2 separate regions of the Homo sapiens genome follow, and region 2 is linked to region 1. The links come from fine-mapping of genetic effects on gene expression. A gene starts in region 1. The other region holds a variant in brackets. All regions are shown on one strand. Distances are between the middles of the regions. Region 1 holds the start of TTC32 (tetratricopeptide repeat domain 32). Region 2 has its middle 88 kb from the start of LINC00954.

Evidence for each region. PIP is the estimated chance that this variant, and not a neighbour inherited with it, causes the effect.
Region 2: its variant is the best candidate, but not a certain one, in a credible set for the expression of TTC32 in lymphoblastoid cells after a statin (CAP, PIP 0.75).

What each region holds. Positions count from the first base shown.
Region 1 is chr2:19,899,437-19,904,815 of GRCh38, reverse strand. TTC32 (tetratricopeptide repeat domain 32) reads left to right here and starts at 2,833. Exons shown (of 3, transcript NM_001008237.3): 1 at 2,833-3,110. The coding sequence starts at 2,962. RefSeq lists enhancers at 2,481-2,720, 2,110-2,990, 3,171-3,270, 3,351-3,410, 3,551-3,740 and 1 more.
Region 2 is chr2:19,778,106-19,783,484 of GRCh38, reverse strand. No RefSeq gene overlaps it. Among named protein-coding and RNA genes, the nearest start is that of LINC00954, 88 kb to the left of the region's middle. The variant T/C (reference allele first, on the strand shown) is at 2,758.

The sequences.
Region 1 (5,379 bases):
CTCCTTACAAGTTACAGGTTGATATGGTTTGTGTGTGTCCTCACCCAAATCTCATCTTGAATTGTAGCTCCCATAATTCCCACATGTTGTGGGAGGGAGCCGGTGGGAGAAAAAACTGAATCATGGGGGCAGTTTCCCCCATACTGTTCTCATGGTAGTGACTAAGTCTCACAAAATCTTATGGTTTTATAAGGGATTTCCCCCTTCACTGTTCTCTCATTCTCTCTTGCCTGCTGCCATGTAAGACGTGCTGTTTGCCTTCTGCCATGATTATAAGGCCTCCCCATCCACGTGGAACTGTGAGTCCATTAAACCTCTTTTTTCTTAAAAACAAAAAAATTACCCAGTCTTGGGTACGTCTTTATTAGCAGTGTGAGAACAGACTAATACACACGTCTATTCATATTTTCTATTTCTTCATGATACAATCTTCGTAGGTTTTTTGTTTCTAGGCATTTGCTCATTTCATGTAGTTACTCCCATTTTTCAGCATACAATTGTTCATAGTACTCTCTTATAATCCTCTTTATTTCTGTAGAATTGATGGTAATGTTCCCATTTTCATTTCTGATTTTAGTAATCTGAGTCTTTTCCTTTTTCGTAGTCAATTTAGCTCAAGTTTTATTAACTTTTTTAATCTTTTTAAGAACCAACTTTTGGTTTTGTTGATTCCATTTTTGTTTTATCTGTGTTTTGATCTTTTATTATTTTCTTCCTCTGCTAGTTTTGTGTTTGCCATTTGTTCTTGATATTTAATGTTAATAAATGTTTTACTTTTTAATAAATCTGTTAATATTCCAACTGTTTTTTAATATAATTCCTTTCCTTTGTAATCCTATGTTTTAAAAACACTTGAAAACATTGAAACGACATAGGCTTCACCACACTTGTAAAGGTGCCATAGCACAAAAAAGGTTAAGAATCTTACTCCTATTTAGAAACCCCCTTCCCAAATCCCCAATTTCCATTACATATCCTGCTATTTTCCTCTTAGATCACTGGTTTTTAGACACATAAATATTCCTGTTATTCCTTGAACAGAACAAAGCAAAACTTCTAGTCAGGTGCGGTGGCTCATGCCTGTAGTCCTAGCACTTTGGGAGGCTGAGGTGGGCAGATGTCTTGAACCCAGGAGTTGGAGATCAGCCTGGACAACATGGGGAAACCCATCACCACAAAAAATACAAAAATTAGCTCACTGCCAACCACTTCCACCCAGAAGGGATTCTTGTGCCTCAGCCTCATGAGTAGCTGGGATTACAGGCACCCGCCACCACGCCCAGCTAATTTTTTGCATTTTTAGTAGAGACGGGGTTTTGCCATGTTGGCCAGGCTGTTATCAAACTCCTGTCCTCAGGTGATCTGCCCGCCTAGGCCTCCCAAAGTGCTGGGATTACAGGCATGAGCCACAGAGCCTGGCCATCTCCACTTTTTCTTATCCCCCAAAAGGATTAACATCCCTGGCTTTATGTAGAATAGTGTACGCTGCCACATCAGTGTTTGAGTCATTCCCCAGAGGAGAGGGGAATCCCCCCTCCATTTTTTTTTTTGCAACATCTTGTCTTCCCTTTGCTGTTGCTTCCCCCAACACACTTGGTTTTGTTCTATCCTGTACTTCAGATTTGTTTTTTGTTTTGTTTTTTTCATATTGAAAAGATGACATTGCTCCAAGAGGCAAAAATAAATGGGAACTGAAAAAAAAAAGCTTTTTATCTTATTTATTTAATCTTTTAATTCACCTGGAATGAATATTATGTCAATTGGGAGCTTAAATGCTTAAATGTATTTTTCCCCAAATGGTTAACTAATCCTCCCAATAGCACTCATTTGAATAATCTGTCCTTTCCCCATATATGTTACATGTCTTTTACAAAATACAGCCTATTTGAGGTATGTTTCTGGGCTTTTGTTCTATTGAGCTGTCCATTTGCTTACACCAGAAATGCCAGTTTATTTTTTTGTAGTCTTGCAATCTTTTAATTTCTACTAGTGCTTTTTAATTTAACCTTAATCCACTGTATTTGTATTTTTTTCAGTGGTGGTAAAAGGAAAAAATTAAAAATCTAATGAAAGCAGCCAAAAGCACACAATTTATGTCCTGTTAAGACTTCCGCATGTAAGTATCATGCTCCAAATATATTTTTCATCTTTACTTTTTATGACGGAAAGGGCTCAAGTACTTTGGGAAGCAAAACAGAATCGAGGGACGCCGAGAAGATACACAGCAGGCATGTAGGGTAGCGTGGTTGGCAACTGTTCTTACAAAATTTTAATTTGAATTATACGTAATGTACGTAATAAATTACTATTTGGATTTCCCTTTGGCATAAACAGCCAGGGAATATAACTAACATCAAAGATCCCAGACTCTCGACACAATATACTACTAATCGTAACACAATTCTAGAGGGTCAAAAAAGGTAGAGAAGTTTGGACCGTGGAACAGACCTGGTGGAATGTCGACACAAAGCGTTTCAGGGTAGACAAAGCCTACTCAGAACACCCTAAACGCGGAGTTTTGCTAAGTTGGGACGCTAAAAGGCAAGGGAATGACAGGACGTCCGCAGGCTAATTCGCCATTAAGAAACAGAACCGCGGCTTCTTCCACCTCCAGCGTCATCGGCCCCCAATTCGCTGTAACAAACGGATAGTGTCTCGCAGCATCAGACAACGGACTTGGAAATCAGTTTGCGACCACGCATCTGCGCCTTTTCTAGGAAAAGAGGAAGGCGGGTCCAACACTGGTAACGGCAGAAACATAGTTCACAAGGGCCACTGCAAACGCCCCGCCAGCAGCGGAACCGTTATCTCGCGAGACGACGGATCCCCATAAGGCACAAACCTAGCGCCAAGGTTGGCTGTCAAGGTAGATTCCAGGGTGTGGAAGTGGCTTTGTGGTGCCACCTCTAACCGCTCGGAGGTCAACCCCCATTCTACACCGAAAACTAGGCCTTGGCTGCTATGGAAGGACAGCGGCAAGAAAGCCACGCAACCCTAACACTCGCCCAGGCTCATTTCAACAATGGAGAGTACGCGGAGGCCGAGGCACTGTACTCCGCTTACATTCGCCGGTGCGCTTGCGCGGCCTCCAGCGACGAGAGTCCCGGGAGGTAACTATCGCGAGACCTGGGGCCGCGGCGACCCCGGGTGGAGGCGACGTTGGGGTTGTTTGGGCTCCTATCTTTGCCTCTGGAGCTCACGGTCGGCGCTTGTCATAACCCAGCACTAGGACTGAGCGGGCGGACGTTCGTCTTTCTAGAAAGGCCTAGGCGAGGCCTAGGACGAGGGCGGCGGAGAACGCGGGGAGAAGCCCACCCGTGAGGAGCCAGCTGCCGCGACGGTGCGGAGAGATTTCCGGGAACCAAGCCCTCTGCGCGATCCTCGGGCGCGGGCCGCCGCCTCTCACCCCGCCGTCTCTCCTTCCACGTTCCTCATTCGCACCCAGAGACTTAGGACAGATAGGAATTTTCCACTCGTGATTTTAGCTGGCGGGAAATCCGCGACCTGGGAAGGGAAGGGGTCACGGCTGCGTAGGGCCACAGTACCGCGACTCCCATCTCAGTGTCACGGCGCAGGCTCTTGGTGGTGTTTTTCACTTGTGAAAAACGTTTAAATATGTGGAAGAGAGCATAACGAACGTCTAGGTGTTTATCACTTGGCTTAAGCATTATCAGTTTACCTATTGTATTCATCCATGGATGTTTCAGAAGGAACCACCATGTCATCATCACATAGTTACTTAATATCAAGTCGTCAGTGTTGGAACCATTCTGATCGACTAATAAGGTGTTTTGTTCTTTGGTTCCCTTTTCGCAGTTAGTTCAAGTCAGGATACACATCAAGTCTTTTTAAGTCTCTTCTCCACCTTCCCCTCTTTATTTGTTGAGGAAACCGATTCTTGTGTCCTTTGAATTTCCGTGTTTTGGACTTGCTGACTGAATCTCTTCTGTCGTTTAATGTGGTCATCTGTCTCATATTGCTGTGAATTGGTGGTTAAACCTTGAGGTTTGATCCAATTGAATTCAGATTCAATATCATGGCAAGAATACTTTTTAGGTGGGTGTGTGTACTTTCACCAGGAAGCACATAACGATTCGCTGACTTTCTCTTTGTGATGTGAGCGGCTTCACCTGTTACTGTCTGCTTGCCCAAAGCATCTTTTCGGCTTGTGCCTGGATGTGTAGCATTTGTTTTTACTCCAAGTCTTGCCTCGACTGGGCTTGTTGATGGTATGGAGTGGATCAGGATGAGAAAAGAACAGAGGGGTTGGTTGAACAGCTTTTTGAATAGTTGTGAGTTGTCTGTTGTGGATTTGAGTTTTCTGGACAGGATGCCAGCTTGTCTTTTGTATGAGGCTTAACTAAACACTAAGGACTTGATTCTTACCCTGTTTGTTACGCTACATGGAATTAAACCAGAAAGAAAATTGCCTTCTCATTTCAATAACACACAAGAATAATAATAGAAGTTTCTGAACAGGCAATAAGATGATACCATCTACTTTCCTCAGTGCACCTCCCCCATAAAAAAGATAAGTAAACATAGAAAGCGAAACTATTCATGTTTCAAGCTCTAAGAGTAGACTTACCTAGTAGATTTTAAAAAGTATTTATCAGCATCAGGTATGCTGTTGCTGTCTAGTCTTGTTATTCTTCCTTCTTTGCACCTCTCAGCCTAAGAACACAAGTGTCTGTAGCATATATAATAGCTATGCCTTACCAGCACAGGAAAGACAGTTTGTCATAGCGCAGTAGAAGGGAGTTCATCATGCCTGAATTCCAGTCTTGGCACTGCCACATGGCTAATGTCTCAGCCTCAGTTTTTCATCTGTAAAATAAGCTTTTGATAAAATTCTAGGAACTCAAGGATTGAAACTGAATTCTGTCATTTCAACTTTTTCCCTTCAATTTATCTTTTGGAGCTTACATTTATTTTCTAAGTATTGGGTCACTAAATCATTTTGAAACAATATTTGCAATTTTTGAATGCCTTTCATTCTGAATGGTTTGTGACGTTTTCTTTTAATATCTAAAGTATAGCTTTAGTCATAAACCTAATTTCCAAAGTGTGTGTGTATATATATACACACACTTTATATATAAAAAATATATATACACACACTTTATATATATATAAAAAATATTTTTTTTTGCGAAAGTTAGCAAATCCTAAAAATTCACATTTGGGTTAGGTAACTTGAATGAATTCCATTATAATAAATACTATCATTACAAAAATTTTAATATTACAGAAAATTTCGGCTTCAACTGTTAGTCCATTTCTTTAAAATATGAAACAAAATTTCCACATGAAAACGATTTTAGAATTTGATTTAATGAGATCTAATTCTAAGTCTAACATTTTATGATTCTCTATATT
Region 2 (5,379 bases), 120 kb after region 1:
GTCTCACATCCAGGTCACGCTGATGCAAAAGGTGGTTTCCCATGGTCTTGGGCAGCTCGGCCGCTGTGGTACAGCCTCCCTCCCAGCTTCTTTTATGAGCTGGTGTTGAGTGTCTGTGGCTTTTTTGGGCACGTGGTGCAAGCTATAGGTGGATCTACCATTCTGGAGTCTGGAGGATGGTAGTCCTCTTCTCACAGCTCCACTAGGTGGTGCCTCAGTAAGGACTCTGTGTGGGGGCTCCAACCCCACATTTCCCTCCTGCACTGCCCTGGCAGAGGTTCTCCATGAGAGCCCTACCCCTGCAGCAAACTTCTTCCTGGACATCCAGGTATTTTCATACATCCTGTGAAATCTTGGCAGAGGTTCCCTAACACCAATTCTTTACTTCTGTGCACTGGCAGGCTCGACATCACTTGGAAGCTGCCAAGGCTTGGGGCTTGTACCCTCTGAAGTCATGGCCCGAGCTCTATGTTGGCCCCTTTCAGCCATGGCTGGAGCAGCTGTGACACAGGGAACCAAGTCCTTAAGCTGCACACAGCAAAGGGACCCTGGGCCCGGCCCAGGAAACTATTTTCTTCTAGGCCTCTGTGCCTGTGATGGGAGGGGCTGCCTTGAAGACCTCTGACATGCCCTGGAGACAGTTTCCCCATTGTTTTGGGGATTAATATTGGGCTCCTCGTTAAGCAAATTTCTGCAGCAGGCTTGAATCTCTCCTCAGAAAATGGATTTTTCTTTTCTATCGCATTGTCAGGATGCAAATTTTCCAAACTTTTATGCTCTGTTTCCCTTTTAAAATTGAATGCTCTTAACAGCACCCAAGTCATCTCTTGAATGCTTTACTGCTTAGAAATTTCTTCTGCCAGGTACCCTAAATTATCTCTCTCAAGTTCAAAGTTCCACAGATCTCTAGGGCAGGGGCAAAAATGCCATCAGTCTCTTTGCTAACAGTTCCCAAGAAGTTCCTCATCTCCATCTGAGACCCCCTCAGCCTGGACCTTATTGTTCATATCACTATCAGCATTTTTGTCAAAGCCATTCAACAAGTCTCTAGGAAGTTTAAAACTTTCCCACATTTTCACGTCTTCTTCTGAGCCCTCCAAACTTTTCCAGTCTCTGCCTGTTACTCAGTTCCAAAGTTGCTTCCACATTTTCAGATATCTTTTCAGCCACACCCCACTCTACTGGTACCAATTTACTGTATTAGTCTGTTTATGTCTTCTGATAAAGACATACTAGAGACTGGAAAGAAAAAGAGGTTTAATTGGACTTACAGTTCCACATGGCTGGGGAGGCCTCAGAATCATGGCGGGATGGGGGGCAAAAGGCACTTCTTACATGGCAGCAGCAAGAGAAAATGAGGAGGATGCAAAAGCAGAAAGCGCAGATAAACCCATCAGATCTCGTGAGACTTATTCACTACCACAAGAACAATATGGGGGAAACTGCCCCCATGATTCAAATTATCTCCCATTGGGTCCCTCCCACAACATGTGGGAATTATGGGAATACAATTCAAGATAAGATTTGGGTGGGGACGCAGCCAAACCATATCATTACTATACCCTGGGAGAGTTACTAGCAGGAAGAGACAGTCCACCACAAAGACACCTCCATTCTGGATGGGAAGACTGAATCTGCTAGTACAAAAAGTTTGCACAGTTTTGCAGCTAACTTCCATGACTCTCATTTCTCATGTGAGAATCCTCTACTTCTCGATCTTGACATATCCAATGACCTCTGAGGCTCACCCGGTTAATCTCAGAGCCTTGACCTTTTCCTGTGGCTCTTTAGAATGAGAGAAGAGCTGAGTGCAGTTTGCACTCTCCTTCACATCTTTATCAGTAAACATGCAGGAAGCATCACCGTGTCTAGGCACCACGGAGGCCACTGTGCCCCAGGCAGACACAGGTCTTCCCTCTATAAGCCTGAGGTGTGGCAAGGTCAGCAGCCTGGAGGAGTGAGAAGCAGGGTGTGAGGGTGTAGGGTGAGGCCAGAGAACTGAAGAGGACCCCTACCCTAATCCAGGAGGTCACGAAAGGCTAGCATATCACCAGGGAGCCCAGAAAAGGGGCAGAGTGTTTTGCAGCAGTGGGAACAGCAGAGCAAAAGTGCCTGGACAAGAACAGGCATGGTGGGTTCAAGAAACTGAGAGATTTAAACAGCTGGAGCTCTGGGGGCCAGGGAGAGAGTGGTCTATATGAAGTTGGAGAGGTAGGCAGAGAGTACTTTATCCTGTGGGAAGCCCTCTCCTCCATTCCAGTCCCCATCAGAAAGAAGAGCCCATGAAGGTAATGCCAGCTGGCAGTGAGCACCAAAGACAAGGACGAAAAGCTACTGCCTAAATGCACAGGTGATCTGTTGCCATGGGCATTGCCTTGGGCTCCCCAACTACTGGTCCTAAAGCCATGAAGCAGAATCTGTCTATAGGGCCAGCTGGCATCCTCCTTCCACAGCCTGTCATGGTAAGTACCAGATTTATCTCCGACCCTACCTCTAGGCATCTCAAGCACCCTAATGGGAAGAATTTTTTTTTTTAAATAAGGCCAAAAGCCAGCTTTTAATCTATGAATAGAATCCTTTCAATCTATGGGTACAATCAGCTTCTCCATACCGTTTTGCCCACCCACCCCCATTTTCTGTTTTCCCCTTAATTATATCTAAAGTTATGTAAGGGTTTCTCCCAAATACAATTTATGGAGAGTTGATTTTGGAAATGAATTCTGTTTGCTCAGATAAGGGTAACCTGGCAAAGAGACA[T/C]TGAGAATAATCTTAAAATTGGACATTTTGTGACCTGTTTTTTGCCTAGAAAAACTAGCCTGATTCAGCTCCATTTAGCAGATGGGTAAAGAGAGTCATGTTGCCTTGAATCCTTTCTGTGCTCACGGAGGTGGCCCAGGGTGTGATGCCCTGTCCTTTGCTGGAACCTCCTCTAGACTGAAGCTCATCCCATATCTTGTGTTTGTGATCAGCACTTCCAATCCTCTTTGCCCTGAGTAGTATTTGATTGTAGAATAGGGAGGAGGGAAGCCCAGGTAAGGGCCCCTGTGAGCAAAGGTGTGCGGGCTGGAAGGGATTGGTGTGTCAGGAACAGTCAAGAGGCCAGTTTGCTGGTGCAGAGACACATGTAAGGCAATAGGGAGATAAGGAAGGTGGAGGCCAGATCCCAGAAGGCCTTGAATTGCAGGCTAAGATATTTGGACTTTATCTTCTGGGTAACAAGGAATAATGGAGGCCTTTAAGGAGAGGGTGACAAAAGTGAAAAGGTGTGGGCTGAGAGCAGTGGCGCTGTGCCTTCCTACCTGCAGGCGTTGCTGTGGGGTTGGGTGATTGTGAACTGGGCAAATACCTCAAAAGTTTGAACAGGCGTCCCATGCCCCAGGGTCCAACTATGTGCCAGCAACTCCTAAATTCTTCCATTTTCTGAATTTGAAACTCGCATGACAGTTGCCTTCTTAGCATCTCCACTTCGAAGTCTCACAGGCTCAAACTTAAGAGGCTCCAAAGGAAGAACTTGCTATTCTCTCTCAAACCTGCTCCACCTCAGTCTCAGTCTCAATAAATGGCATCTCTAATTGCCCAGCTACTCCGCTGGAAAACTGAGGCATCATCCTCCCTGCTTCCCCCTTGGTTGTCCTCATACTCATTCATCACCAATTCTGTTGATGCTATCTTCAAATATTTTCAAACTTATCCATTTCTTTACTATGGTCCCTACCTTAGCCTAGCTGCCATCATCTCTCTCTCGAACTTCTCTGCAACTTACTGATCTCCTTGATTCTATTTTAGAGCCCCATCCAACCTACCGTCCCCAAGCAGCCAGACTGATGGTTACATAAATAAATTGTCATGTAACTTCTCTGTGTAGAGTCCCTTTTTGGCTTCCCTTTGCACGAGGACAAAATGTGCAGCCCTTGCTATGGCCTCCAAGGCTTCATTCTGGTGGTCCAGACTCCTCTTTGACCCCCTCTCTTGCTGCTCTTCTCTTTGCAAATGATGCTTTGTTCCACGGCTCCTTTCAGGGGCAGGATCCTCCTTTTGGCTTTAAGGTCTTTTTGCCTTGAGCCACGCTCTCCCCCACACCAACCCTACTTGTCTTCACATCTCAGGATAAGTAGCATTTCTGCAAGGGGCTTCCATGACACCCTAATCCTGAGCAGTTTTTCTGTTGTTGTCCTCTCCTATAGAGACCCGTTCTTTTCCTTTGAAATCCCGATCACACTTTGTGGTTCTTTTGTGCCTCCTTGTTTAAAGCCTGTCTGCCCCACTAGACTGTAAGCTCCCTGAGAGCAGGGAGCACAACTGTATTGTTCATTAGTGCGAGTTGGAGCCTGGTTAGTGCCTGACATGTGGGACATATTTACTAAATAGTGAATGATTGAATGAATGAATGGTGCTCTGCTACCATTCTGTGATCAACATGATCCTTCTCTCATATCCCAAGATTTTGTGGGCAGGGGAAGGAGGAGCTGAAGGTTGAGGATGATGGCTCGGGAGACAGTGATCACAAATAACTTACCATTGCTCAGCAGGAAGGTGCTGGGTCTCTAGCCCACACAGACCCCTAAAGACCCCTTTAGTACCCTGTGATGGAAATGGCATCTAGGTGCTCTCACCAAAGTCCCTCTTCACCTGCAGCCCAGATGCTGAATTACCCAAATGATTCAGGGGTCAAGGGCTCACTCCCAGTGGCTTATGGAGAAGTGGCTAAGCCTGTACTCACCTGTTTTCAAACAGCAATTCCCATCTTTGTATCAGGAAAGTAAGTCCACAGAAGGCCCGTGTAGGCTGTCAAAAGAGTAAGTCCATCAACCATGCTTTTTCTATTATGACTTGAGATTCTATCAATTTTCTAACTTGTGCATATGGATAAATTCATATTAATAATAATAATCAGAATTTTACTAACCTTCCCATCTGTTTATAGGGTCTTGACTCCCTTGCAAAGTTTCCACTGAATATTTCTGGATTCCCCTGGATGTCTCTTGTGTGCTCCTGAGCATGTCTGGTAGCCACTTTGTGCTTCTGTTTCTTCCAGGAACTGCCTCCCCATCACTGAGTTTCCCTCCCACCATGGGGTCCTGGCATGCCATCTGAACATGGCTTTGGACTCTGTTGTCATCTTCTGTGGGCTCCACAGTCTCCCGTGGTCACTCCTGCTACCTGACTCCTCTCATCAGGAACTGTGGTCCTTGTTAGCTGCAGCACTGATGCGCAGGGGCCCTCCTAGCCTGAAACTGAAGGCTGGCCTGTGCCCTTTCCAGTTACCAGCTTGTCTTAAAAAGTTTAAAGACAACAGACATAAATCTGTAGGACTAGATGGGGAAGAGATCTGAGGATCAGAGCCAGAGTACATTCAGAATCACTCCTTTGCTAAGATGT